Regions from separate parts of the Homo sapiens genome. Here regions 1, 2 and 4 are each linked to region 3. The links come from fine-mapping of genetic effects on plasma protein levels. A gene starts in region 3. Each other region holds a variant in brackets. All regions are shown on one strand. Distances are from middle to middle. Region 1 overlaps PTGFRN (prostaglandin F2 receptor inhibitor). Region 2 overlaps PTGFRN (prostaglandin F2 receptor inhibitor). Region 3 holds the start of PTGFRN (prostaglandin F2 receptor inhibitor). Region 4 overlaps PTGFRN (prostaglandin F2 receptor inhibitor).

The links. PIP is the chance, under the fine-mapping model, that this variant and not a neighbour inherited with it causes the effect. Sun 2018 read protein levels with aptamers (SomaScan).
Region 1: its variant is fine-mapped to the plasma level of the PTGFRN protein (Sun 2018, PIP 0.95).
Region 2: its variant is fine-mapped to the plasma level of the PTGFRN protein (Sun 2018, PIP 0.95).
Region 4: its variant is fine-mapped to the plasma level of the PTGFRN protein (Sun 2018, PIP 0.95).

What each region holds. Positions count from the first base shown.
Region 1 is chr1:116,942,438-116,950,022 of GRCh38, forward strand. PTGFRN (prostaglandin F2 receptor inhibitor) reads left to right here. Exons shown (of 9, transcript NM_020440.4): 3 at 2,242-2,655; 4 at 6,755-7,135. Among named protein-coding and RNA genes, the nearest start is that of PTGFRN, 36 kb to the left of the region's middle. RefSeq lists a silencer at 4,796-4,996. The variant G/T (reference allele first, on the strand shown) is at 5,202.
Region 2 is chr1:116,950,761-116,958,345 of GRCh38, forward strand. All of the region lies in intron 4 of PTGFRN (prostaglandin F2 receptor inhibitor), which reads left to right. Among named protein-coding and RNA genes, the nearest start is that of PTGFRN, 45 kb to the left of the region's middle. The variant C/CT (reference allele first, on the strand shown) is at 3,093.
Region 3 is chr1:116,906,170-116,913,754 of GRCh38, forward strand. It overlaps PTGFRN (prostaglandin F2 receptor inhibitor), which reads left to right and starts at 3,747. Exons shown (of 9, transcript NM_020440.4): 1 at 3,747-4,083. The coding sequence starts at 4,035.
Region 4 is chr1:116,961,364-116,968,948 of GRCh38, forward strand. It overlaps PTGFRN (prostaglandin F2 receptor inhibitor), which reads left to right. Exons shown (of 9, transcript NM_020440.4): 5 at 1-305; 6 at 5,548-5,967. It also overlaps the pseudogene RNA5SP55. Among named protein-coding and RNA genes, the nearest start is that of CD101, 37 kb to the right of the region's middle. The variant T/C (reference allele first, on the strand shown) is at 3,417.

The DNA.
Region 1 (7,585 bases), 36 kb after region 3:
GCTGCATGGCTGTGGGCATGTTACATGCCTCAGCTTCCTCCTCTGTAACCTTAAAGGTTGTGAGGACAGCTGAGTTACCAGGTGTAAAGCCTTAGAGCAGTGCCATGTAAGCATTCAGTGGTTAGTGACAGGAAGGGGATGGTCATGTTAATGATGCTCAGGTTTATGGGAATCACAGGCACTTCAAAGTTCATGTCTTTCTCTGTGGCTTTCATGATTTAAGTACTTGTTTGTACCAGATGTTTTATGTGTTATATGTAATGTGGTCTCTGCTAGCTTATTGACCTAGCTTTGCAAATATTACACCTTATGTACCTGGAATGTTTTGGGATTTGTTTTGGGGGTTTTGTTTGTTTGTTTCATTTTCCAAGTCCTTTTAGATTTACTCACACATTCAATTCTCTGAACCCAATCAAAATAGGGCAGAATATTTCCCTAATTTATACATGAGGAAATGGAAGAGCATAGGTTAATTACTTTCCTAAAATCACACAGCTAATTAGTAAACGAGCAAGAACAAACCATTTTAATTTGGGGCTAAGAAAATAGAAACATTATAATTGTTGTTATTGTTACTTAATTATGCATTTATTTGTACCCTGCCTTGTTCCCAAAAGGATTTATGTCTGGGTCAGAATGTATGTAATTATCAGAAAGTAGAAAATGCACATGATGATATAAAAAGCGAGGGTTGATTGAGGCATTCATTCCCTCATGACTTGTAGAACCCTGCCATAGCTCAGAGACTGTTCCCTCACTAGACTCATCAGGGGATAAAACTGTCCATTAAGGAGGTAATGAAACACCCCATCTACCTCTTTATTCCTATAGAAAATTCAGAACATGTTATTTAGAAAAAGACACTCTTGTATTGGAGCTAAATATTGCCACATGCCACTTTTTCATTAAGCCAGATGCCCCCTTGTATCCCCTTGGAGTCTCCTCTTGAGTGGGAGGGAGAGTAAGGGGAGAATTCCCCCACCCGCACCCCACTTCCTCCAGTATCTTTCAGCCTCTTCTGCTGTCTTTGGAAGGCAGGAGACACAAGAGGAGGCCTTTCTTGGGTGAGGAAAGCAATGGATGACCATGAGAGAGACTGACTGCTGCCCAGGTGGAGCCTCTGATGGTTGCCATGTGTGGTCCAGGATCTGCCCGGCCTTCAGCTTCATGGCTCTTGAAACTATTCATCTGTGCTCTGAGAGATGAGCTGGCCTTGAGAACTGAGTCATATTAGCCAGACTCACAGACTGATACATATACTAGAAGGTCATTATATTTATTTTGCAGTAGAGATGGGTCTTCAGGATGTGTCCTCCTAAAAATGTAGCAGCTTTTAAATGTTATCTAGAATAGCCCCTTCTCAAGGACACTGAATTAGTTTCTGAATATGGAATTGGGGGGAAAAAAAAACAGATGATGAATAGTGGTGTTGGAGGGTCCTCTTAGCCAGCTCATGGATAAGCCTGATAGATTTTTCCCTGCTGCTTGGTAGTGGCCCCCTTTCTGGTTACCAGAATAGCAGTATCCATCTACTGCTTTTTTCCTGAGTACACCACCCATACTTCCTTGATCGCCGTCCCCTTTTTCTAGACTCTGTAGAAGTGTCTGGGCCTGTTCCTATCATGTGGATATGCTGTGTTCACCCTAGACATTCTTGGGCATTCCCCAGGCTGCAAGCCACAGGCAGCTCATGCCATCCTTTCTCCCCTGTGGATCTTGCTACTTTAAGTCTAGAAGGTCACCTTATCTGCAGATTCTGCGGGCTCCCTAGCCTAGCCCTGGTCCTAAGCAAAGAAATGTTTGACAGTCATACCCAATGATTTATCATGACAGCTGAGTGCCAGGCACGGTCCTGGGAACTTACCCTGTTTAACTTAACTCTCATGTCAACTCTATGACGAAGGTCCAGTTGTCATCCTCCTTTTAGGAAACTGAGGCACAGAGGGGTAAAGTAACTTGCCTTAAGGGTAGCAGAAGCACATCACATCCCCAAGGCACGACTCCCACAGGGAGTTTTTACCACCCACTTCTAGCATGGGGTTTTTTTGGTACCTTTATTTTTCTTTTTCAAGTCAGAAAGTCAATTGAGATTACAGATGAATCCAGTTGGGAAAACGTGCCCATCCGGGTCTTGGAATGGGAAAGGGAGGAGGAAATTGTCTGTGGTTGCAGCGGTGGGCTGGCCCTTGCCGGCTGGGGTCGGTGTGGACGGGCTACTGACCTAGCTTTCTCTCTCCGCAGTGCTGGCCGACTCCCTGCACGTGGGCCCCAGCGCGCGGCCCCCGCCGAGCCTGAGCCTGCGGGAGGGGGAGCCCTTCGAGCTGCGCTGCACCGCCGCCTCCGCCTCGCCGCTGCACACGCACCTGGCGCTGCTGTGGGAGGTGCACCGCGGCCCGGCCAGGCGGAGCGTCCTCGCCCTGACCCACGAGGGCAGGTTCCACCCGGGCCTGGGGTACGAGCAGCGCTACCACAGTGGGGACGTGCGCCTCGACACCGTGGGCAGCGACGCCTACCGCCTCTCAGTGTCCCGGGCTCTGTCTGCCGACCAGGGCTCCTACAGGTGTATCGTCAGCGAGTGGATCGCCGAGCAGGGCAACTGGCAGGAAATCCAAGAAAAGGCCGTGGAAGTTGCCACCGTGGTGATCCAGCCATCAGGTGAGCTGGAAACGATGCGTTATAGGTGATGTTATTTTGTGACTAATGATAGTGATACAAAGAACCGGGCCAGGGAGCCCCATGGCCTTCTGACAAGAACTGTTTCTGCTTCCCATGTGAGGCCTTATTTTTAGGGGTGAAGGGAGTAGGGTGTTGAGAGGTTGGAGGTGGGCGGGGTTACATTTGTTTTGTGCTGAGGATGCCTGTCGTTTTGCTTCGCAGCTGCTTTTATCTAAATTCATGTCCATGGAAAGCCACAGCCTGCACATAACACGAAGGCAGATCTTTCACTCAGAGTTGAGGTGCTGTGGTCCCTCAGCCAGATTAGGTAGGACTTGGTGTTCAGTGGAGCTTTGGGGTGAAGGTGCCACACCCTGCCCCTAAACTTTATCGGGTTTGATGTTTCCTGAGTCCTTTGACGTGCCTTTCTCTGCAGCTGTTGGAGTGTGTGCCTGGCTCATCCCAAAACCTTTCATCTAACTTGTATCCTCTAGGCCTGCCTTTCGGTCCCCTCAGATGTGCTTTTCCTGGAAGGGGGAGGAGCTCTCTAGGGCAGGGCCGCTTCTTGCTTTCCTGTATCATACAGACCACAGGAGCATCCAGTCCTGGGGTCTGTACAAGAAGCCCTTTGTCCTGTCGTCTGTGAATCAGCTTTTTTTTTTTTTTTTTCAAACCCTCTACTGCAATTATAGAAGTAATTAAGAAAATACAACATGCATTTTAGAAAACACATAAAAATAAAAGGAAAACATGGTCTTGTTGACTCATTGTCCAGCCAGCATCAATGGAGGACCTACTGTGTGCTCAGCTCTGTTCTGGGCCCTTGGGTCAGAGGTATTTGAGGCTTGTTCCCAGGCCCTGTGGAGCTTTAGGCTTCACAGAGACAGTGTAAAGAGACCAAGGAAGGGCAATGTCATTGCTCAGGATGAGTGGATGTCCTTGGTTTTCTGCAAGTCTGACATCTTCAGATCTCAGAGTACTTTGCTGCTGTTGCTGCTGCCTTCTGTTTTTTAAACTGGGAAGACCTTGGTTGTTGCACTCATTTCCTGAGCATGAATGTGAATATGTGGTGGCTCTGTTACTCAGATGGGAAGGAAAGCAGGAAACAACACGCAGGGGGAATATTTTGTCTCTGAAGGTGCATTGTCCTGAGCTCTTTACTCTGCACTTACACCACAGCACAGAGCCTGGATTTGGAAAAGTGGGTGGTGGAAAAGCAGGTCTGAGGTTCTTGAGTGACTATGGCCATTGAGGAGAGGAGCTGCTCATTACTGGTCAGTCTGGGCTCCACTGGCTGCAGAAATCGCTTTCCAGATGGACTTAGGTTACCTTCCTGATCAGAAGTGATCGCTCTGCAATCTGCCCTAAGAAACCTCTAGATATTAAACTTGCATCAAACAACTCTTAAGAGTTTCAGCTGTGTAGAAAGTTTACGCTTTTTTGGAAGAATTTGAATTGTAAAGACATTTTTTGTTTCAAACACACCATGAGACCTATAATATCTAGCTAAGAGACTTGAACACTGAACTTATTAGGCAGGTAATATCTGGCTCTCAGATGAGACAGGGTTCATAATCTTTTTGTGCCATGAGACTTTTCGACAGCCTTTTGAAACCTACAGACCTTTTCTCAGAATTAACATGTTTTAATTCATAAAATACAGTACACAAGATGACAAAGGAAAATAATTATATAGAAATCGTTATCAAAATACTTGTAAAGCAAATTGATTTTGTAGTAATATGCTGCTTTATTAATGCATTGATAATAAGATAGTGGCAGGCTTAACAACTGTACTTTCTGAATAGTAATGAGTATACATGATATTTCAGGATATCTGCAGCAACTGTAATGTGATTTCTATTTGGGGTAGTTCCAGACACAGGTAATACTACACTGGTTTGTTGCTTACTTTCACAGTGGGAGGAGATGCTATATTTCAGGTACAGATTAATAAAAATAAAGATGGAGTTTTTTTCCCATCCAAGTTCACAGACTCTAAATTCTCTTTGTGGATCCCAGGCTAAGAACTGTCACACTAGGCTGATGGTCCTTCTCTTCTTGTCCACACCTGCACTATCCATAGCTGGCTGCTTATATATTCTTATCACATTGTTATGATAAATGGCGCAGAGTGAAGCTGTGCTACCCATGTGGCAGGGAGCCTCCTCCCCAGCCCCTCCTCCCTGTCATGGGAGTGGTCTGGTTGCTGCAAACTTTGTCTGATTTATGGATTTAGTTATATTCAGGGACAGAGAACCTGCCCCACCACAGGCTTTGCCTGAGGTCCCTTCTTTCATTACAAATACTTAGAACTGGTCCTTTTTTTCCCTTTAGCCTACTCCATCCTGTCTCTCAGCAGTAAACTCCCAAATCCAGAATGTGTGGGACCTCTGGTTAGTGATGTGACAAGATACTGAGCCACTTGCACAGAGAAAATTACAAAGTGAACTACACAGCTGAAGAGACATCCCTGCCAATATTTTCTGAACCTGAGACTCTGTTTTCTCCATCCATACAGTCCACAGCTGCTTGTTAAGTACTTC[G/T]TCACTGACCCGACTCCCTCCTGAGTCGTCTTTTACTTCCAGTAGCTGAAGTCCTGGCAGAGGTGACTCCAGCAGGATTCCAGGGTTTCTGGCCACAAGCTTTGACTGTAGAATGGTTCAAACTGCAGAGCCTGGCTCAGGGCAGCAGTTTCCATACTTAGTCCTCACAAATGATACCCTCAGGCTACTTTTGGCCCTTTTAAAGAGATGATCGAGAGAAAGAATTAGGAGACTAGGTGGAAGGAGAAATTGAACTTTTAAATTGCCTTTTCTAATACTGTGCCCACCTTATTTTCTGTCTTCTGTCTAGCTGGATCTTGAACTTGACTTGAAATATTTGTTTGAAATATTGTCAGGCTTTGGACATATTCATATGAAAGTAATTTACGCCAAGGAGCACGGGCTTTGGAGTTGGTCTTTTCTGAATTGGGTCCCTGAGCTTACTGGGGCCAGCGCCATGCCGTTGATGCCAGCGACTTGCTAGAAGGCCAGGGCTGTGCCTCTGCTTGAATCCCCTGGGAAGTGCTTGGTACTTGTCATCTAAGTAATTGTTCCCGGACATTTCACAAGTTGATGTTTTTCTACTCAGATTACAGATGCTCTTTTAAAATCTTCTGAATAGAATAAAATGTTTCCATGTGAAAGCTTTGACAGGGGAATGCTGGAACTAGATCTGCCTTGAGTCTGTGACACCAAATACTTCAGTGCTTCATCTAAATATAGTCTACTTTTAATTATCCACACTAATGAGAAAGGACAGTAGTGCAGATAATCCAAAAATCATCGTGTTTTAGTTTTAGAATATGTTTTATGATTGGCTTTTATGTGGGAATGTCTAAGAAATAAATTATACTCTCAGTACATTACATTTTGAAGACTTGACTCAAGGAAAATTGTCTGGTTTCACTTTCCTGGCCCTTCTGTTTAGGATTTTTCCCTTTTATCCCTTAGACAGTTTCACCCTCACTTCTGCTGCCTTATTGCCTAGCCCCCAGCTAACAATATGTACCAGTCAGAAGCAAGTCTTCCTTTTCTGTAAAATCACCCAAGTTTCATCATGCACATGGAGAATGTATAATTTTAGTTTTACAGTCTTCAATAGACTGCTTATCAAAAGATAGCATAACAGTGAAGAGCAGAGTTTCTAAAGGCAGATAGCCTGGATTTGGATTCCATCTCTGCCACCTATCAGCTGTGTGACCTTGGGCAAGTTACTTAACTTCTCTGTGCTTCAATTTCCTCATCAGTAAAATTAGGCCTCTTAGGGTTGTTTTGAGGATTATTATATGTAAAGCACTCAGAACACTGCCTGGCATATATAGCAGATATATGTAAATGTTTGCGGCTATTGTTGTTTTTATAAAATAAGAAGAAATGTGGTATGTTCTGTTAATTTATTCATTAAATATTTCTCAAGCACTTACAACTGTACAAAGCCTTCTAACTTTAATGCTGTAAATAAGAACTTAAAAGGAGATGCTTTAAAGAGGGTGGAGAATAGAAGGGGCAAACATAATCAGATTACCTAGATGTATTTGTTTTTAATTTTCAAGTTCTGCGAGCAGCTGTGCCCAAGAATGTGTCTGTGGCTGAAGGAAAGGAACTGGACCTGACCTGTAACATCACAACAGACCGAGCCGATGACGTCCGGCCCGAGGTGACGTGGTCCTTCAGCAGGATGCCTGACAGCACCCTACCTGGCTCCCGCGTGTTGGCGCGGCTTGACCGTGATTCCCTGGTGCACAGCTCGCCTCATGTTGCTTTGAGTCATGTGGATGCACGCTCCTACCATTTACTGGTTCGGGATGTTAGCAAAGAAAACTCTGGCTACTATTACTGCCACGTGTCCCTGTGGGCACCCGGACACAACAGGAGCTGGCACAAAGTGGCAGAGGCCGTGTCTTCCCCAGCTGGTGTGGGTGTGACCTGGCTAGGTGAGTGGTTTGGAGAATGACTCTTAACCTCTTCAGCTTAACCCCTCCTCGGAGTTATCTGAAGGAGTTATCTCAGGAGGCTCTGCGCTTTGCATGACTTCGACATTATTTCTATTGGTTCATGCATACTTTGGCCCAGATAGATCCCAAGCTGGGGATGAAATAGAATCTGGCAGACAAGGGAAATGTTTAGATAATGTGGCCTCAGTTGTCTCAATACCCTCATTTGAGAGTATATAGTTTCCTTTTGTTGTCGACATTTGCAGGGTCAGGGCACTGCTGAATGGCTCTTTGAAATGAATCTTTGTTGGAGGGAGAACACTGCCATTCTTCCTTTGTTTCTCTTAGACTCCTAGGTGCTCCCTGGCAGGAGCTGGTGCTTTTCCAAAGCCCAATGCAGAAAGATAATTCCTTCAGTTATTAGAAAGCATTTTTTTTTTCACGTCACGC
Region 2 (7,585 bases), 45 kb after region 3:
CGATGGAGACGAGGCAGGGTGTTCATCAGCCCTGTTAGCAAAGTAATCCTTTGATATCTGAAAAGTAAAAGAAGCGGGGTTTATCTGGCAAGCTTTTTATTCCTGCCGTCTGAACCCCATGCAAGAGAGTCACTATGAAGTACTGAACTGGAACAATGTTGGCCCAGCTAGAACTCTCCTTAGCAACCTTCAAAATAAAACAGATGTTGTCAGCACCAAAAGAAGATTTTTCATCTCTGGAGCTGAATTTGTCTCACAGCTCTGATCCTTAGTGTATTGTATGGTGCTGTCAAATCCCAGCACTGGCTCTCCGTACCCGCTCCCCCTTCAGCTTCTGAATCCCAACTCGAGGACTTTTTTTTTTTTAATTGAAAGTGCTGCTTGCACTCCAATTTGAGGCTTCTTTGAAGTACGTGTGCATTGATCCCGGCATACCCGGGGGGAGATGCAGGGACTGTCAGACAACAGGAGCGGAGCTCTAGGAGGAATGGGCTCCTTTAACTGGAAGGGATTTGTTGGTAGCTGTGTTCTCCAGAGAGTGAAAAGAAATAAAGAGACTAAATTGTGGAAAAGGCTCAGTTACTATCCAAAGGATCCCGTCATTTGTTTTCCTTTGGAGTGCTACTACCATTGTGAAAGTCATCAGTGTGCTTTTCCTGACTGATGCTAACAGATACAGAACCTGCACCTTCCCTGCTGCTTTGCATGTAATAAGCACTCAATAAATATTAGCTGAACGGGTAAATAAACCAGTACCCACACATGGATTTTGTTAAAATATGTGCATAGGAAAGCTAGAATTGCTAAGAAAGCAGTAATGTTCAACTCCTAGGATATTCAGAGATATTTGCCCCTGAGTAAACCTAACGAAAGAGCGAGTAGTATGAAAAACAATTGCATTCTTTTTTTTTTCTTCCTCTTAAGACTTCTCCTCCTTCCCTGTGCCTATGACTCAGACCATTACAGCTGCTTGGACACTTGTCAGGAGCGGGTAGGGCATGAGCATAGCAGCAGACCCTTCTCAAAGACTTCCCCGCTGGACTCTGTCCAGAAGCCAGTGAGCCTGGCCTGACACTCCATGGTTGTCTCTAGATATGTAATGTGCATGTATATGCGTACGGATACCATACCACATACAACTTGGGACCAATATAAGGTAACCGAGAAGTGACCAAAAAAGATAGACAGACAACCTGACAAGCACTCTGTTGATATAGGTGGTCTTAGGTCATGTAACTCTGGAATGTTGTCACAGAAAAGTTTTCGAGAGAGTTGGTTTGCTACACAGGTAAAATGCAAAACTCAGTTTTGCCACTTGACAGATTAAAATGAATAATTACCATTTATTGAGCATCTACTGTGTGCCAGGCACTGGACTAAGGACCTTATATGCATTAAATGTTCAATGTGAAAATATTTTTGGCCTTGGGACTCAGCTTCATTCCTGAAACTCCAGAGCATAGTCCTAAGAGCTGGGTAGTTCTTGTCTTCATTTGCTTGGGGCTTGTGTACTGAGCTAGGTGAGGGGATTGAAGCTGATTGGGGTCTTCTAGAGTTCCACTGTGCTAAGCAGGAAGACGGGGCAATGACATGAATGGGCCTGGCAAGTCCAGAGCACTTGCAGCCACTGAGAGGATCATGATAATGTTTTAGATGTTGAGAAAAAACCTCTTTTACTTAGAATGTATGTCCTACTTTAAAGGGAAAGAAAAAAAAGATTTAAGTTGGCTTGCAAAATGAGGTACAGTTTAAAGCAGGAGACATAAAATCAAGATCAAAAGGGTAAAAGAAGAATAGATATTGCAAGGTGGTTGGTATGAATTAGTTATTATATTTGAGCACTGAATTTGCCTCTGAAGTTCTGAAGAGTTGAGACAAAAAAAAAGATGTGATTATACAGTTCTCCTCTGAGGAAGGAAAACATTAACTCTTTCAGCAAGACAAACTTTCTCTTGGCATTGAATTTATCATGTGCTTTTTCATTTTGGGGCATTGGAAAAGATAATAGACAGGGCTTTCAACTGTTCTTTTACAAAAGGCCCTAAATGATGGTTTAAATGGATGTTTCTTATATCCACCCTCTATAAAAGCTGAGGACATAAATCTTAAGTGTGTGAAGGGTTTCTGTAAGAAGCTCAATTACTATGGGGGACAAATGATGCTTTGTGTTGATCCAATTTAGTATATGTCTAAAACAGAGAACCTAGCAGAATGGCTAGTTAATCTGCACATTAAGCCATCTCCTTCTGCTATCAGATGTCTTAAATGAGCCTTTGGCAAGAGTTGGATACTAATCAGTTCATGGTTGAACTCTGCCCGAAGTACCAGACTTCTGTGGCGTTAATTGGAAGGGGTTCCACAGGCTTTGGATATAAGAGCTGGAGGAGGCAGAGTTGAGTTCTGCTGTTCAGTCTTAAGAACCTGATTTGCATTCTTCCCCACTGAAGGACTGGCCCCTCTTCAGCAGTGTGCCAGCAAGGAAGGTAATTATTTTATTTAAAAGAGCTGTTAATCTGCTAAGTACTTGGTAGAAACTTTAGAGTTCTGGGCCATTTATAGGCGATAAGATTTAGACCTGTAGGTTTTTTAAGGATAACTAATATCAGCTGTCTGTCCAAGATTATTCTGGAAGGCAGAAGTGCACGTGGCCAAGTGTTGGAGTCAGGAGACATGTGTTAGTCCTCCTTCTAGGTATGTTGCCTCGGGTGTGTCGATGAACATTTCCAAGTAAGTTTTGGTTTCCTGGTTTAATATGATAATGCATATAAAGTGCTTAGTACAGTGCCTGGCTCTTAAATGCTCACTGCATTTTCTTGGTGGTGGCGATGATGATTTGTTAGTGTTTGAGGGTCTTCCCCACCAAGTTCTTAACCAATTAAGACCTAAGAGTTTGTCTTAGGGCATGGAGGAGCCCAGCATAGAGGAATTAGGAACATGTGTGTCCTAAAAGCAGCTGCTCCTAAGAGGAGCTAGAGAAAGGGGTTGAGCTGACCACACCCAGCCCTTTTCATCCCTCTCAAAGCTAGTAATTCACTTTTCCTTCTCTGGGAGGAGCAAATGAGGATGAAGAAAGAAAAACTTCATGAATATTT[C/CT]TTTTTTTTTTTTTTTTTGAGATGGAGTCTCGCTCTGTCGCCCAGGCTGGAGTGCAGTGGTGCAGTCTTGGCTCACTGCAACCTCCGCCTCCCAGATTCAAGCGATTCTCCTGCCCTAGCCTCCCAAGTAGCTGGGACTACAGGGCGCCTGCCACCATGCCCGGCTAATTTTTTTTTGTATTTTTAGTAGAGATAGGGTTTCGCCACGTTGGCCAGGCTGGTCTCAAACTCCTGACTTCAGGTGATCCGCCCGTCTCGGCCTCCCAAAGTGCTGGGATTACAGGTGTGAGCCACCGTGCCTGGCCCTTCATGAGTATTTCTTTGGGTGCAGGGCATAGATGTTGCATTCAAATGATGTTATTTTTATTGCTCTGAAATGGCTAGTGCTCCATCCATCCTCATAATGGTTCTGCCACAGTAAGGTAATGAGTCTCCCCTCCCACCCCCTCCCAACAACAATAGCTCCTTATTTGTAGCCTTCACTCATTAAATGTCGGTGAATATTTAATTGTTATACAAATGGTGATCGTGGTGTCATTTTGACGATTGGTCAATATGCTCAGCTGCCTCTAAAGTACCTACCCAATTCAAAATAATAAAACCCTGTCATCAGCACAGGCTGAGTACTCCTTCTGTTTCTTCTAACTGGTGCATGCAGCCATTCATGTAATTAGCTGTGCCAAGTTAACTAAGTTTCAGAGGGGGTATTAGAACATGGTCCTATTGTACACAGTTCAGGATTAGTGCTTCAGCTGTTGTCATCACTCTTGTCTTCCGGGACGTAGCAGGCTTTGAGAAAGATTAATAACCTTGGTGTGTAAGGAGGTTGCACAATTTGATCATAGTAGGAGCCAGGCCACGGAGCCAAAGCCTGTCCTATAATTCTGCTCTCACACACTCTGCAAGGCCTTAGTCTTCTAACTTAGCTCCTCTAACTTTTGCTTTTTGTTTGTTTTTCATTTGGAAATGTACATGAAAATAGTACCAATCTTACAAGGTTGTTATGGAGATTAATTGAAAATGCAAGGAAAGTATATAGTGTGGTGCCTGGCATATGGAAAGCCCTTGATAAATGCTCGTTGTTTAGCATTATTATTGTAAAATGGGGATAATAATACCTTCCTTACAAAATTGTCATGAGAGTAAAAGGAGGTATTTTGTATGAAAATCTCTAGATCAGTCTCCTGCACATAGTAGGCCCACAATACTTGTTTTTACAAATTAGCCAGTGATTCTGAAGGCTTTTTATTGTTTTGAAAGTTGTGACAAAGGAGTCTAATGAGCCATTATTTTTAAAGCCTTTCTTTAGGGGAGGGTCACTCTTTTGGAGTCTGTGCATAGCTTGGGAGATGGTGTGGACATGAGCAGACACCTTCCTGGCATCCAGATTAGGGAGCAGATCCCTGCTTCTCAGAACGTTAGTGATGCTGCACTTGGACTGGCCTCAGTATTCTGTGAGAGGGCTTACAGTGTGTGTTGTTGTTTGTTTTTAACTTTTAAAAATAGAAATTTACAAATATTCACAGTTGAAGAAATAACCACCAACTTCAACAATAATCAATATTTTGCTGATCTTATTTTATCTCTCTTCCCTATTCCAGACACCAGACACACACAGACACACACACACAAAAACACACACTTTTTTCTTCTAGAAGAGTATAAAGTATATCCCAGACATCATGTCATTTTACTGTTAAACACTTTAGTATGCATCTTTAATGATAAGCAGTTTTTAAACATAACCACCATTGCATTCTTAGCTGATTTCTTGATGAGATCAAGCAGAATGTAGCAGTAATCAGTGGTGAAATGCCTGTGCCCAAAATGAGCATTTTAATGCAAAATATTAAATTTAGTTCAATTCAGCCAGTATGTTAGTATTTTTTATGTACAAGGCACTGCATGCACAGCACGTACAGAGAATCAAGGTGGCAGTCCCTGGCCCTGGGAAGAGTCCTGTGGAAAGCCCATAAGACATACATACGAATAACCAAAGTTCAAGGCAGGATTCACATAAAACCCTTAGAGAGCAGGGAGCTTGGCAGGTGGTGGGATTTGTTGAATACGAAATAGGAGTGTGACATGTGAGTTCAAAGGAGGCATTCTCCGTTGAGTAGGAGAGGATACACAGAAGAGGTATGTGCATGACAGGCCTTGAAGAAGGGCACAATCTCTGCAAACCATTTTTAAAATTGTAAAACAATGTTAAAGGACAATCTCTGTCCATGCACCAAAACAAAAACGAAATCAGAACCTGCTCCTACTCCTACCATTCTGACATGGTGGAATCATATCTTCTCCAGGAGTGTAAGTCTAAAGTTGAGCTACAAGGCTGGTGGATAGCTCAAATGAACCTGCCCCTCGTAAGTTCACAAGCCAAGAATCCACTTATTTTTGTTTGCCTTTGCATTAAAACTGAGGCCTCCTTTTCTGAGGCCTAAGGTTAGTTTTAAGAGAAAATGAAGAGACCAACTGTTGAGGTCAATGAAGAGATTTTTCTTTCCTTCCAAGCTGGAATTCCTATAGCTAGATGCACACATTGTGCAAGTCCCCCGTACTCTCATTCCGCTGTGTTTGGGTATGTAGGATTCAAACAGATTGATTTCAGGGTGGAGAATGGAGTAGAATGAAAGAATCTCTTCAGTCATTATTTAAACTACTTATCGAGCAGGTGGCCCAGGTGCTGAGGCAGACAGAGCAGCAGGAAGGAAGGCGGAGCATAGGAGTAGCTAGGGAATGGTGAGAGGTGCCATCTGAGTGGAGTTGAGAAGGCAGTGGGTGCTGCGGCTGGGTGCACGCAGTGGAGGGCCTCGAATGCCAGGCTGGGGAGCATTTTCTTAACTCAGTAGGTGAGGGAAGAAGCCATGGGAGGTTTATGGAGCAGATGCCCAAGCAGTCATGTCAGTCATGTCAAGTGGCAATGGGAGGTTGTTATTATAGTCTTGGCTAGAGGGAGTGAGGGCCAGGGTGAAGGTGTTCTTCATGAGGTTTTCACTTCTATTTGCAAATATTCATAAAGTGTCTACTCTGCATCAGGCCTGAGAACAAAGAAATGGAAGAGACACTGAGGAGGTAGAATGTGCGAGACTTAGGAACCCTCAGAGTGGAGAGGTGGAAGGGAAGGGAGAGCGTTGAAGATGGCACACCTTTGACACTGAGTGACCTTGAGAATGAGTGGCGGGAATGTGGTAGCAGGAGTGGTTGAAAAGTTTGGAGGTGGGGCTGGCTGTGTTTGGAACAAGGTTTTAACTCTCTCTCTCTCTCTCTCTCTTTCTCTCTCTCTCTCGCTGGCTCGCTGTGTGTGTGTGTGTGTGTGTGTGTTTGTGTTTGTGTGTTTGCAGAGGCAGATGTGGAGTGAGGTGAATTCGGTTGTGAGCGTGCTGTAGTAAAGACGCCATGGATGCTCAGTTAGAATGCCCAGACCTCAGCTCAGGCCAGTGTTTGGGTCTGGAGGCTAAGGAAGAGCTGGGTTTTCATGTCTGGGGGAGTGAGCTTTGGGGTGTGAGCAGGCCAGGGAGTGGGAGGAGAGAGAGAGCTGCCCAGGTGATTGGCACAGGAGCTAGTTTTGACCACCTTTTCTGTGTGTTCTGTGATCTGACCACTAATAGGTCAGTCAAGTCACTCCAACATGTTTTTTTAATTGACAGATTAAAATTATATATGTTTATGGTGTACCACATGGTGTTTTGAAATATGTATACATTGTTGAATGGCTAAATCAAGCTAATTAACATATCCATTACCTCACATACCTATAATTTTTTGTGCTGAGAATGTCGAAGATCTGTTCTCTTAGCAGTTTCCAAGTATACAATACATGGTTATTAACTATAGTCACAATGTTGTACAATAGATTTCTGGAACTTATTCCTCCAGTCTAACTGAAATTTTGCGTCCTTTGCCTAGCATTCTCCCCTCTCCATCCCCCAGCCTCTGGTAATCACCACTTTACTCTCTGTTTCTATGAGCTCAGCTTTTTGACCTCCCACATGCGAGTGACATTATGTGGTATTTGTCTTTCTGTGCCTGGCTTATTTCACTTAACACTGTCCTCCAGGTTCATCTGTGTTGTCGCAAATGGCAGGATTTTGTTCTTTTTTTTTTATGGCTGAATAGTAGTCTATTGTGTATATATACCATATTTTTTTAATCCATTCATCTGTTGATGGACACGGGTTGATTCCATATCTTGGCCCTTGTGAATAATGCTGCAATGAACATCTACCATCTTTCATCATAATTTTGACAGCCTTTGAAAAGGTGCCACTCTGAAAGAATCTGCACGGGGGTGGAAGTAAACCATTAAGGATCAAAGGGTCTGTCACCTGTGAGGAGACAGAAGAGGAGTCCCCACAGGCAACTTCATGGTGTTTTGGATCACACTGGTCAGTCAGGCTGAGGCGAGGGCCTGCAGGGAGCTGTCTTCTGGGTCACATTCCCTGTGGCAGTAACTTAGTGTCATGGCAGCACTGCACTCAGCGTTCCTAAAA
Region 3 (7,585 bases):
GATGGGGAGAATTGATAGTTGGGTGGTGACGAGCAGGACCAGCCCTCAGGCAGGACCCTGCTTAGCCCATACCAAACAGATGAGGTCCCTTGCTGTTTTCAAACTTGTCACATGAGCATTCTACAGCTTCCCCACTAATCTCACCAGTATTGCAGGACTCTCACTCGTGGGGAAATAAAGGCCTCCTCTTCCCACCCCTCCCTTTCTAACTTTTAATTTCATTTTCTAATTCTATAATATAATCCTAAATTTCTTTTTGTTTAGTAATCTCTGTTTAACTTTAACTGGGAAAATATACATCTGGACACAGAACAAGGAAGACTGTGAGTGAAAATGATTAGTGGAATGAAACGGTGCCATGGAATATACTCCTTCCCCTGAGCCCCTGCTGAAGTAGGTAGGGGTCAGGGTCATTTGGAGACTGTGTGCGTGTACAGGCTGCCAGAGGTGGCAGGGCCAACAACTCCAAGTCTAGGTGAGTCTTAGAACAATCAGCAATTTCATTCACTGGGAACCTTTTAACATTTTCATTCACAAAGTTAAATAACATGATGATGTTTTTGCCTGATCTCAGCAGGGAAAACTTGTTTGGCGTAACAGTATGAGGACTCTTGTGAGGTTTTAGGGGTATCACCTGCAGAAAGACATGTGTGACCAAAAGACCATAATGTCGGACTGCTGTGACCAGTGCCCCTTGGGGGCACTATGATTGGAGAAAAGAAACCCATGTCGGTACTCTCCTTGGGGGTGGGCGTGAATCAATTAGAATTGCTGGAGAGTGAGTCTTCCTGCCCCAGGCAAGCCTATAGACTAAGATAGGAGAACAACTGGTTGGGGCAAAAGCCTTACCTGTATAGAAGGTTACTCACTCTGGTAAATAAATATCTTTCATAGTAAAAGCATCATCAGATTCCAGAGTCATGAATTAACAAATTGTGCCAGTCTGCTGTGTTTCTTCCTTTATCCATTGGTAGTCAGGAAGGTGCAAAGGGTGTGGTGGTTATAACCAACAGTCTAGACTTATTAATTTATGCTTATTTTTTGCTACAAAAGTGGCTCTTTGGTTAACTCCCATGACATTTAACTGCCAGCCACCAGCAGGCTACCCACTTCAGTCCTCATTCTACCTGCCTTACCTAGACAATTTTATTTATTCTCATCATTTCAATGGTTAACCACTGTTATTTCCATGATTGTAAGATACACCATTAATTTAATAATACCTGGGGGTGGGTGAGGTGAGAAGAATCTCTATCATATTAAATACACAACATCTATTGTAAGCTTATCCTTACACTCCACAGCTAAAGACCTACCAATTTTTCAAGACTCGTTGCATAGTCATCCCCTCTGTGAAGCTTTCTCTGACAGCCTCCTCCTGGACTGGCCGCTCCCTTGTGGTGTCACAACTCTACCTTGCATATGCAATCACAATGCACAAAATGTCGACTCCTCAAGGGCAAGAACTGTCTGCTTCATCCCTGTACCCCCAGGATCTAGCCCAGTGTCTGCCATTAATTCACTCTATAAATATACATTGGGACCTACCATGTGCTAGGCACAGTCCCTGACACACATTGTTTATTAAACAAAAGAATTTTTAAAACATCTACTCTGCCATAAGGTGGGATACAAGGTGAAAATGTGACAGCCTCTTAGGCCCATGCATTATTAGACAGAGATGGGGGTAGTGTATACATTTTGCTAAACTGAATGTGACCAAGTGCCACAATGTGTGGTTCAAACATTAAGCGTTCTGGGTGGTTAAGAAAAGGAAAGATGGAGGATGAGCTGAAATCTGAGCTTCTGAAGGTGCCAGGCCTCACATTTCTCTGAAGCTCCACTACCTTCCAAGGCCTAACATTAGGCTTGAATTCAAGGTTGATTGAATGAAATTGGGAAACTTCCCTGCGAGATTCTAGGGAAGAATTGGGATGGGGAAGAGAAAGGAATTACAGTGTGTATGAACAGAACCAGGAAAGGCTTGGCGGCAGAAATAAATTTTAAAAAAATTATTGTGTAAAATGTACATAGCACAAAATTTACCATTTTAACCTTAAAAATTTTTTTTTAGAGACGGTGTCTCACAATGTTGCCCGAGTGGTCTCAAACTTCTAGCCTCAAATAAAAAAAAAAAAGAAAGAAAAAAGAAAAAGAAGAAAAAGTGCCAGCCCAGTGGCTCAGACCTGTAATCCCAGTCTTTGGGGAGGCCGAGGCGGGAGAATCGCTTGAGCCCAGGAGCTCGAGACCCGCCTGGCCAACATAGGGAGACTCCAGTGTCTACAAAAAATAAAAACAATTAGCGAGAGTGTGGTGGCACACATCTGTGGTTCCAGCTACTTGAGAGGTGGAGGTGGGAGGATTGCTTGAGCCTGGGAGGTCAAGGCAGCAGTGATCCCTGATCGCACCACTGCACTCCGGCCTGGGTGACAGATCCTCATTTTGAGACCCTGTCTCAAAAATGAAAGAAAGAAAGAAGACAAAACAAATAAAAACTCCTGGCCTCAAGCAACACCATCCCTGCCCCCCGCCTCCCCCTGCCCCCCCAACCTCAGCCTTCTGAGTAGCTAGCATTACAAGTACCAGTTACCAGGCCTGGCAATTTTAAACATTTCTAAGTGTACCATTCAGTGGCATTAAGTACAATAACGTTGCACCACCAGGAATGAATTTTTAAGTCTCTTTCCAAAGATACCTGGCTAATCACACATTTGATAGTGGGGAAATAAGAAACATTTGTTGGTTGAAAGACGGATGCATGAGAGTAAAAGCAGTGTTCTTCCCCAGTGTGGGCAGTTTCCGCATAAGCATCTGCGATCCGTTTTGCATGTGAATGAAAGCCCAGTGACGGGCAGTGGGCACCAGTGCTGCTCCTTGCGTGTTTGAATCATGCTTGCTAAGTTTCAAGCAAGGAATGCTCCATTTCTCCCAACCAAGTCGGGCCTTTTGTATTCAAATCAAAAGCACAAAACTCTATTGTAGGGGGAAAAATGAGTCTTTATTGGCAATCAGTGGTGTCCACTTAGAGCAATAAATATTAAGTCTTAAGAGTACATTCTATATGAAGTACTATAGCTATTAATACACTTGGGTTTTGTTTGTTTTTTAAATGGGTGTCTTTGTGGGGTGCTGTTCTAATCAGTGCCACAGGCGCCGAGGAGAGGGAGGGAGCTGGGTAAGGAAGGAGACAGGCCCACCCTAGCCACCGGGGAGTGGGCAGAGTCAGGAGAGCGGGGTTCTGATTTTGCCCCTTCCCTGTGAATCCTTGGGCACCTCACCGAAACACTTAAGGCCTCTGTATGGTAGAGGTTGGAATCCGTGGCCTTTAAAAGTCCTTTCAGCTCCTTCGCTCCTATCTGCATAATTTTTGGCATAGGCCAAGCGGCTGGTTGGTGGGGTGTTTAGCTCAGGACGAGAGGCCGAACGAGCGGGGAGTTGGCTGAGGATAGACTAGACACGCGTGGGTGACTCCAGCGTGATGGAACGCGGGGTGTCCCGGGATAGGGCTAAAGCGATGGGATTTCCAGACGAGTCTTTCCCAGGCCAACTTTTAAAGGTCGGAGGAAAGTTTCTCGTGGGGTGGGGGCCCAGAGGGGATGGCAGGGTGGGCTCCGACGCCTCCTCGCCTTTAAGCGGGTGGCCCCGGCTCTTCCTCCGTTACCTGGAGCGGGGAGGGGCTTGGGAAAGTTTGTGTTTGTTGCTGGCAAAGCGCCGGATGGGAGGCGCGGGCGGGCGCTGCGGTTCTTCCCTTCTGCTTTCGGGAAGCGGTCGGGGCTGCACACTCGGATCGGCGGGGCCGGCTCCCGGGCCCGGCCGGCTGGAGGAGGGAGGGAAGGAGGCGGGAGGGAGCGAGCGGAGCCAGGGGCGCACGTACGCCCCAGCGCTGGGATTTATCGGCTCGCGAGGAGAGCGGAGCAGGCGCGCGGCCCAGGCGGAGGAGCGCCGACTCTGGAGCAGCCGGAGCTGGAAGAGGAGGAGGAGGAGAGGCGGCGGGGAAGGAGGAGGAGGGGGAGAGTCGCTCCCGCCGGGCGAGCATGGGGCGCCTGGCCTCGAGGCCGCTGCTGCTGGCGCTCCTGTCGTTGGGTGAGTGTGCGCGGGGCTCAGCGGGGCACACGGGGACTGGCGAGGCCCTGGAGGGCTCGGCGGGGCGCGGCTGCAGCGCGCGGCCTGGGGCGCCGAGGGTGCCCGGGCTGCTCCCGGGAAACCCGGCCGGGGTGCGCGGGTTGTTCGGCCCGGCGGGGAGCGGCCGCGGGGCCGCCCGGAGCCTGGCGCGAATCCGCTCGGGCCCCGCGCGCGGGGTGCAAGTGGCCGCTCCGCCAGGCCGAGCCTCGCCCCCAACATGTGCCGGGGGGAGTGGCCCGGGGCCGTCTTTCCCCCAGGTCTCCCTACCTGTTGGCCGCCGGGAGCCCGGCTCACCTTGAACTCCCGGCCCGGAAGGTGCTGCGGTCCCGGCCCGGGTCCTCGGCTCGAGAGCGGAAATGTGAGCCTTTGATATGCCCCGCCATAGCCGCCGCCGGCCGGGTCGCTCTTCACCCAACCCGCGCGGAGTTGCCTTTCCAGGGAAGCGAGAGAATCCTCCAACTTCCTTCCACGAAGGTCACAGGGTGGCCCGGAGCGTTACAATGGAAATCGGCGGGCGAGTCCTGCCGTCATTTTCGTCGTGGCTAGATCTTCTGCCTCAGTCTTTTCTTTTAGCTTTTCTTGAAGCTGCCTAGCTGCGTATTTATACACAAAGACCTAAAAGCCTGGCTTCTCCAACTTTTTCTACCTGTTACTTTCCCTCCCTTACTATCCCCTCGTCTTCCACCCTCCGGAAACCCTGGGTGCCCCGTGAGGTTTTGGCCCAGCGCCCTCCCCCCACCCAAGGAATCTTTTGTGGGTTTTTTCCCTCTCCATTTTCCATTCACTCCATACACAGACACCATCTTCACGTAGATCCACATGGTGATCCTAGCCAGCCACGGAAATATGTTTATTAAGTGCCCACCATGGTACCCCAGGGCCGACTCTTAAATGTTTTGATATTCTTGGATCCTTGTTGTCAGTGTCAACCAGGACAAGATGATTCCTGTGACCTGGCCTGGGGTTCTCTTCCAAGCCCCTAGAGAAGGCGGCTCTGAGTCTTTCACAGAGCGCATGATGTGCGGTGTCCGTGCCATTCAGGTCCCAGCTGCACACAGGGCAAATGATTACTCTGCACTTATGGTCAGAGGGTTCCAGAGGAGGCCTTCTATAGCTACTCCCCTGCTGGGGACACCGGGGCCCACACTGCTGTAACCCCCATGACTCCTGCTGCTGATGAACCAGCCTTGCTGGCTGCTGTGTTTTCTTCCTTCACCTTGAAGGGATTTTCTGAACTGACTCCCTCAGAGAGCTCGTCCAGCCACATTGCTTCAGCTTCAGCCCATGTGCAGAAAGCTTCCAGATCTTCCACTTAGTTTTATGGCATCTTTTCTATAGTCCCTGATCCTAGTGCTTTATTTTTATTTTTGAAACAAAGCCTCAGTCTTTCACCCAGTCTGGAGTGCAATGGCACAACCACAGCTCACTGAAGCCTCAAACTCCTGGGCTCAAGTCATTCTCCCACCTCAGTCTCCTGAAGTGCTGGAATTACAGGCATGCTCCACCACACCCGGTGGTAGTGCTTTTAATCTTTACTTTTCACTCTGGGACCCTTGTAAGTTGTATGTTAGTGGCGCACTGCTGTTATAGTCCACACACATTAATTGACTTTATGTGTCTGGGTCAAGCAGGGCCATGGCCTAGGTTTGCACAGATGGTGCACTGTACAACTTCGGGAGCTGCTGTTCACTTTGTAGTCTGTGTGAATAACTCCCCCTAGAGCTGTGCAGTTCTCTGAACAACCTGGGTACCAGTTATGAGGGTGGGATGAGGTAGAACTTTGAAAACAATGCCCTTGAGTAATAATGAAGGGAGAAGAGGGGAGGGGGCAAAGAGAGACTGACAAAAACAAAATAGAAGTGGGGAAAGCACAGCTTGGGGAAATCTTGATTGTACTCCAGCATATCCTGTCCTGGCTGGATGCCTCCTATGAATTACACAGGGAATTTCTGTGGTGTCACCAGCCAGTACCTTTTCACCTAACAGTTCTCTGAACCATTGATGACCCTCCTGATAACTCTGCTGTCACAGAATCTCACTCGGTGTGGCTTCAGCCTGACCTCTGGGAAGGTCTCGCTGTGTTACACTGCTCTGGCACTGTACTGATCCCTGAAATGTAATATGTTGATAAACAAGATCATCTTTCCTCCTGGGGTGTAACCTGGGTATAATCGTGGTATCGCTGCTCTTTTTGACCTCCATATTCACGTAGTCTCTCAATTCTTGGCTCTCCCCGTACCACAGACTCCAGCTTCTTTCTTTCCTTCCTGTTTCTACGGCTACTGTCTTAGCCCAGGTCCTGATTGTTTCCCACACAGTTGGTGTCTTCCTGGTTGATTATTTCCTCCAGCCTCCCTTTTAAGCTCATCCTTTTCCTAAATGATCATTTTTGGGGCTCCCACCTGTTCTCACTGTGTCCTTATGAGTTTCCTCCAAGGAGATGTTGCCCCTTGTGTGTCCCTCCCCTCTGGTCTTCTCTGGCTCAGACACTTCGTTCCAACTAACCTGTTTGCTCTCCTTTATGTAGACTATATTAAACCTTCTGGCCCCTTCTACTTCTCACCTCTTGCCTGCGTATTAATATTTCCTTTTTCCCTTGAAACTCACTTTCTCCATGAAGCCTTCCTAAGCCTACCTACCATGATCACACCAGAACCCACCCAGCCACATAGAGCAGGTTTCACATCCATTGCCTATGTCTGACCTGTCTTGCCCATCCACTCAATGTGGCATTTCTTGAGTGGCCACTCTGTGTGCAACTGTGTGTTCAATACTGGGAGTCCCAGACAAATGACAAAGACACAGCATCTCCCTGAGCGGCTGGTGGGTGTGAGTAGACAGAGAATAAAATAGCTAACCACAGGACTGAATGAAATACCTGACATGGAAACCAAGTGTGGGAAACAAGGAAGGGGATGATTAATTTTGACTTGGGGGTTGGGGCTGGTTTTGCTGAAGAAGTGACATTTGAGTTGAGCCTTGAGGATAATTAGAATTTTGAAAGAAAGGATAGAAGAGCATTCTGGGCTCTGGGGAAAAGCCTAAAGTGTGGATGAGTGAAAGTACATGGCTCATTGAGAAATGGCACGTAAGTTCCCTGTAGCTGGAGCTGGGAGGAGGAGGAAATAATGGGGGTGCAATTATTTGGGGGAGGAGGAAATAATGGGGGAGGAAAGGTGGGTTTGGGATAGATCCTGTAGGTTTTGCATGCTGTGCTAAGGAGTCTGGACTGGGAGGGGTAGATTTGTTGGTGCTCTGGGTGCTGCCAGCCAGTCTGTGCCCTGTCATCAGAGCATATATTTCCTTCATTGTATGTAATTGTTCCCTACTCTGATTGTTTCCCCTGGGGGCAGGGGCCACGTTGATTTTGTTCACTACAATGTCCCTATTACGAATAGGATATATAACTCATACTGGTTGTTTGATACATATTGGCTGACTGAATACTTACATATGTCATTTT
Region 4 (7,585 bases), 55 kb after region 3:
TTCGTGGTACTACAGGATGAACCGGCGCAGCGACAATGTGGTGACCAGCGAGCTGCTTGCAGTCATGGACGGGGACTGGACGCTAAAATATGGAGAGAGGAGCAAGCAGCGGGCCCAGGATGGAGACTTTATTTTTTCTAAGGAACATACAGACACGTTCAATTTCCGGATCCAAAGGACTACAGAGGAAGACAGAGGCAATTATTACTGTGTTGTGTCTGCCTGGACCAAACAGCGGAACAACAGCTGGGTGAAAAGCAAGGATGTCTTCTCCAAGCCTGTTAACATATTTTGGGCATTAGAAGGTAGGAACTTTTTTCTTGTTATTCATTTTTGTTTTGTCTTTGCTTAAGTCGTGCCGCTGTGTGTTGATGCACAGTCACCCTCTGCAGGTTATCACTTACACTAGGAATGTGTGTCCTGGACATTGATCGCCATGCGACCCGTTGCACATGCTCTTTGGACTCACTATCACCCCTCCTCTGTCCCCAAGCCCCAGAGAGGTCCCTCTCCAACTCACTGTCAATCAGCCAAGTCTCTTGTTTCCTGAACTTTACCTCTGAATGTTTCTTTTCTCTTTCTTGCATTAAACATGGTGACTCTGAGGACACTCTTTCCCCTGGAGAAACCGTTACCTCTCTGAGGACAGTTTCCCCCAGAGCCCAACTAAGTGATGCCCATTTTCTTCCCACACTTCTCATAACTGGGCCTAGAGGTGTGGGGCAGGTGCCCTTCTTGATCCTCCCTGCAGCTTCCAGGTCGTTTTCGCTCACTCCTAAAAATATCTAGCTTCGAATCTCGTGTCATCATCACACCATACCACCTCTTCTTGTTACTATTGCCTGTTGCCTCCTAGGTCCTCCGTTCATTCTTTGAAGATGTTAGCGTTTGTTTCACGGCCACTCTGTCTGACACTGCTCCCATCTTGCTAACTTCAGTATCTGTGTAGAGCACTGGGTCACAATTGGAAGCCCCCTAGGAACTTAAAAAAAATGCTGGTGCTTTGTCCCACCAGAAATTCTCCCATCCAGATACTAACCAGGCCTGACCCTGCTTAGCTTCCAAGATCAGACGAGATCAGGCGGGTTCCACCAGAAATTCTATTTTAGTTGGTCTGAAGTATATGCATTCTGGGCACTGGAATTTTTAAATGCTCCCACAGTGATTTTCATGTGCAGCCAAGGTGGCGAACTCTAATACAGTTAATCCTGTCATTCTTAGTTGCTTGTCCTCCTCTCTGTAGTCATCATGTCCTCTATCCTATTTGGTCCTACACTTACATGCTTATATGCTACATTAGACCGTCTCCCTTCTGATAACTGAAACCCCTCCACAGTCTCAATTTCAAGCATCCTGTTCTCTAAACATATCTCCTGTCTTTCTGTACCGCTCCGTCTAGTACTCCAGCAACAATCCCCCAACCTTACTGGGGCCAACAATCTGTTAATCCTACCACCTGACATCGTCCTTCACTGCCATTGTGTCTTCACGTCTCTCTCACTAGGGTGCCCATTTGTAGTCCAGCGTACACCTGGAATGGTGTACATTATGATAGCACCTTCTTTCATTCTCAGAGCTAAGGCTGGGAGGTAGGGGTAAGTTATGTGGTCACCTACTATTACCTAGCCTAAATTCCCAGTCAGTTTTAATCACTCCCTTGCATACACCCCTAGCTTCCTTCCCCTCTCGGTTTGCATTAGACTGTGGCCAAACCACAACCCAGTTCAAAGGCAGCTTTCTGCAGCCTCCCTACCTGTGCCCACAGAGCTAATGTGGTTGGAGAGAAACATTCAAACATGTTGACTGGTCTCCCTTTAAAGTAGTGGTCACTTGTGACAAGTGGGCTCTTGGCACTGCGTGGGAATTATTCTGCATTTCCTTAGTCTGTTTATTTCCCCACTCTCCTAAGTGATTACTGCATACCACCTTCTGTCTCTGCAAACCTCCTCCCACAGCTTCTCTCTCAGCTGTTGGCCCTGCTTCCTATTCTCCTAAAAGTAGAAATAATCAGGAGAATTCCCATTCACGCTGCCCCAGGGCTGAGACCAGGTCACGTGGCATATGTCCTGGCAGAGGCCAGCCCCTCTCACTACTTAGACCATGGCTGCTCTCTCTTATGTCTTTGGTAATTCTCTCCCTTCTGGACCTTTCCTATTGGTCTGTCAATGTGCTGTTAGATCCAGGTTTCCTTGGGTTTTTTAAGAGGGGGTGGGGAGTGAGGGTTGTGGTATTTTTTGTTGTTTTAGTTTTGTTTTGTTTTTAGAGACAGTGTCTCACTCTGTTGCCCAGGCTGGAGTACAGTGGTGTGATTGTAGCTCACTGCAGCCTTGACCTCCTGGGCTCCAGTGATCCTTCCACCTTAGCCTCCCGAGCGGTTGGGACTGCGGGTGCTCACCACCACATTCAGCTAATTTTTTTTTTTTTTTGAGACAGGGTCTTGCTCTGTTACCCAGGCTGACATGCAGTGGCATGATAATGGCTTATTGTAGCTTCAGCCTCCTAGGTAGGTTAAAGTTATCCTCCCACCTCAGCCTCCCAAGTAGTTGGAACTAGAGGCACTATAGGCCTCTATCATCATGCCTGGCTATTTTTTTTTGGTAGAGACAGGGTCTCACTGTGTTGTCCAGGCTGGTCTTGAACTCCTGACCTCAAACGATCCTCCTGCCTTAGTCGCCCGAAGTGCTAGGATTACAGGCATGAGCCACCGTGCCGGGCGCCCCCCCTTTTTTATGCTAGTCTTGATCTTCCTTCTTCATCCGTCTTTCTGTTTCCCACACCCATTTGTCTACTTATTACTTTTTCCTTTTATAACAACAATATTTGACGTATATATACTCAGTGTGTCTGGTTTTTCTCCTTCCATTCTCTCTGGTACCTACTCAAATCAGGCTTTCCCCTCAGCTGCTTGTGGTAAGATGGCCAGTAATCATCATATTGGAAAATCCTATTGTCAGTTATTTTCTTTGACTTAGCAGAATTTAACGCAGGTGATTCCCTCCTCCTGGGAATGCTTTGGTTTTTCCCTTGGCTTGTGGGACACTGCCTTCTCAGGGCTTTCTTCCAACTTTATTAGCCATTTCTCAGCCTCCTTTTCTGGCTTCTGTTCATTTTTTGGACCCGGAAACATTAGACTACCTCAGGACATAGTCTTTGGACATAGTCCTTGGACTTGGACTTCTTTTCTATTTAACCTCACCTTCTTGGTGATGTCTCTAATCTCATCAATTTAAATACCATCTAGAAACCAGTGACTCCAGATTTACATGTCTACCCCAGGCCTCTTTCCAGAACTCCAGACTCAATATTACATTGCCTCCTTGACACTACTTGACTAACAGGCATCTCAAGCTTCTGTTCAAAAGGACGCTTCCCATCACATCTGCCAGCTCTCTTCTCCCAGCTTTCTCCAGCACCAT[T/C]GTTCTAGTGGCTCAGCCCAAAACCTTCATCCTTGACTGCTCGTTGTTAAAATTGACTTAGAATCTGGCTACTTTTCACACTCTGCCATTTATGGCGCCACCCTTGCCTGGATTACATCCCTGGCCTCCCAGATCGTCTCCTTGCTCTGCCCTAGCACACAGCAGCTGGAACAATCCTGTTAAATATAAGTCAGGTCCTGAAACTCCTTCACTCTAAACTTTCAAAGCCTCCCCATCTCACTCAGAGCAAAACCCAGAGTCCTCTAAGTGGTCTTAGATGTTCTGTACCAACTGGTCACATTACCTTCTGGCCTCACCTAGCACCCTCCCCAGCACCCACTCCATCCAGCCACTCTGCCCTTCCAGGCTCCTCAAATACACCAAGTGTGCTCCGGCCTTGTAGCTTTCTGCCTGCTGTTCCATCAGTCTAGAATGCTCTTCCCAAGATAGATAGGACTTGCTCCCTCACCTCCTTCAGGTCCTTTTTATTTATTTTATTTTTAATTTTAATTTTATTTTTTTAGAATCACAGTCTTGCTCTCTCACCCAGGCTCTCTCACCCAGGCTGGAGTGCAGTGGCACCATCATAACTCGTTGTCGCCTCAAACTCCTGGACTCAAGCCTCTCAAGTAGCTGGGACTATAGGCACATGCTCTGTGCCTGGCTAATTATTTAATTTTATTTTTAGAGGCACGGGGTTTTGCTATGTTGTCCAGGTTGATCCCAAACTCCTGGCCTCATGCAATCCTCTCGCCTCAGCCTCTCTAATCAGTGAGATTACAGGAATGAGCCACTACACCCAGCTCAGGTTCTTTTTAAAATGTTGCCTCCTCAGTGAGGATGTCCCTGATCACTCTATTTACGGTTGTGGCACACACACCTTCCTTCCAAATACAAATCCACGCTTTTTCTCTTCCTTGGCTGCTTATTATCTCTTAAACATTTATCACCATATAACCATACCATATATTTTATTTGTTTATTTCATTTGTCTTCCTTCACTGGCATATAAAGGGAGGGATTTTTGTATTTATTTGTTCACCGTTATGTTTCCAGTACCTGCAGTATGGAAGGCTGTCAATAAATATATGTTTAAATTGATGAATGAATGACCGAACTCACAGGAAAATCAAGAAAGAATGTGGTGGCTCAGTAGAAGCTCAGCAGTCAGTGGTTCTGGAGAGAGTTCTTAATATACATGTTCTGCTAATCGGTTTGGTGGAACAAGTGTTCCAAAAAATCTAACGTAAAAATCTCATCTTGTAACTGGATGGATTATAGGATTAATCATCTTATTAAAGGATAAAAAGAATGTATCTAATTCATTTATTCATCCACTCAACAAATATTTAAGCACCTTCCAAGTGCCTGACGTTGTGCTACTATAATAGATGAATTCTAATGTGTACATGCATAGGCATTGTTGTTTTGACAGAGACACAAGGAGTAATCCACTTAAACCTAAAGTTAGCGTAGCCATAGACACCTCTCAAAATGTTTAAACAGCATTTCTGAAATTAAAGTGTAAAGCAAGTGGAAATTATTAGATCTGCAAATACATACGCTACAGTCATTTTAGCAATACATCTGTTCTGTAATGTCACTATCATATGATTAAACAGGGAGAATTCATTTCTCCCTTGCTGCATTCCTCCCTGCAGGCTAGCTTAGCTAGGGGCACTTCCCCTGCACTTAGCAGACCCCTGGGGAGGAGAGGCAAATGGTATGGCCAGGAGCCTGGCTTGGAGGTCATGGTGTTGTGTTCAGCCATGTCTTTCCCACCTTTATAGGAGTGTCCTCTGCCTTGCATCTTTTGGAGCACCAATAGCGGGTTCCCAGATTCTTCCTGGTGAAACTTCTTAAGGACTTAAAAATCCTTAAAACCAGTTCTCACCATAATTTCCTCTCTCCTGACACCCACTGATTCATTTCAGACTATTACTTTCAATGGGGTGGTTTTAGCCTGCTTATAGATACACATGATTTTCTTTCTGAGTTTCCAGATTTTCGTAGGTGCTTTTGTGTGGCAATTTGCAAATACATTTCTGTTTCTTGGTTATTTTGCTTTTAGTTGCATTTTTATTTTAACTGATCTTGTTGGAAATCACATCCTTCTGGTCATTCATTCCAGATTCCGTGCTTGTGGTGAAGGCGAGGCAGCCAAAGCCTTTCTTTGCTGCCGGAAATACATTTGAGATGACTTGCAAAGTATCTTCCAAGAATATTAAGTCGCCACGCTACTCTGTTCTCATCATGGCTGAGAAGCCTGTCGGCGACCTCTCCAGTCCCAATGAAACGAAGTACATCATCTCTCTGGACCAGGATTCTGTGGTGAAGCTGGAGAATTGGACAGATGCATCACGGGTGGATGGCGTTGTTTTAGAAAAAGTGCAGGAGGATGAGTTCCGCTATCGAATGTACCAGACTCAGGTCTCAGACGCAGGGCTGTACCGCTGCATGGTGACAGCCTGGTCTCCTGTCAGGGGCAGCCTTTGGCGAGAAGCAGCAACCAGTCTCTCCAATCCTATTGAGATAGACTTCCAAACCTCAGGTGAGCAGTGAGCCCTGTTGAATCATAGGTGGAGCTAGAAGAGACCCTAGGGTTTTGATCAGATGCCCTCATTTTTTAAAACAGCTTTGTTAAGATGCAATTCATATGCCATACAATGTACCTGTTTAAAGTGTGTAATTCAGTGGCTTTTCATATATTCACAAAGTTGTGTGATCATCACCACGACCAGTTTTAGAACATTTTCATGACCCCAAAAGAAACCTGGACCCCTTAGCCAATACCCTCCATTCACACTCCATTCCCCACCTCCCATTCTGCAGCAACCATGATCTACTTTCTGTCTCTATACATTTTGCCTATTATGGACATTTCACATAAATGGAATATAATATGTGGCCTTTCTATCTGGCTTCTTTTTTGGAGCAAAATGTTTTCAAGGGTCATCCATATTGTAGCATGTATCAGTGCTTTGTTCATTTTTATGACTGAATAAGATTCCATCGTATGGATATCCCACATTGTGTTTATCCATTCATCAGTTGATGGACATTTGGGTGTTTCCAGTTCTTGACTGTTACAAATAATGCTGCTGTGGACATTCATGTACAAATTTTTGATGAATGTATGTTTTCATTTCTGCTTTCATTTTAAGAAAATGAGCTGAAGCTCAGCTACTTCAAATACTTTAGGGAACATAGTGGAGTATAAAGAAAGAGAGGAGGGAATTGAGCCTCCCAAGGTGTTAAATGACTTGCCAAAGTGGAAGATCTTTAACATCCTCTGTCTGTGTATGTGTGTGTTTCAGTAGGAAGATGATTTAAAAGTATTTAAACCCCAATCTTATTTAGAATATGAATGCAAAGGATTATCATTTGTGAGTTTAATACTAAGTGTTTTCACTAACTCTGCCCTGGGTTCCTGGGTTTTAGTTAGAAATTTCTGAATGTATAAATTAATACTTATCTGTAAAAATTCAGGTGTCAATTGAATCATACAATGAATGCAAGATATTTGTTGAATTAAATGATTAGCATTTATATTAAAGGTAAGCTAGACTCTAATAAAGTTTTTCTATTAATATTATTTTCTATTATTATAGCCTTTTATGGTATATAATATATACCATAGTGAAATAATCTTCTAAGATCTCTTGACCTTTAAATTAAAGGGTAAATATTGATTTAAGCCCTTAGATTTGGAGAAAGCATAGGCCTCCTTTATTGTGTATCTGTTTGTTTTTAATAGCAGCTTTATTGAGATATAACTCACATACTATAAAATTTACTATATATAGAGTGTACAATTTAGTGGTTTCTAGTATATTCACAGAGTTGTGCAACTATCACTACTATCTAATTCCAGAACATTTTAATCACCTCAAGAAGAAACTCCACTCTCATTAGTAATCATTCCCATGCCCCCATGCCCTTGCCCCTGGCAACCACTAATTTACTTTCTGTCTCTATAGATTTGCCTCTTCTGGGTGTTTCATATGAATTGAATCATATTATATGTGGACTTTTGTGACTTGCTTTTTTTCACTTAGCATAATGTTTTCAAGGTCCATTCATGTTGTAGCAGGTATCAGTACTTCATTCCTTTTCATGGCTGAATAATATTTCATTGTATGGATATGCCACATTTGTTTATCTGTTCA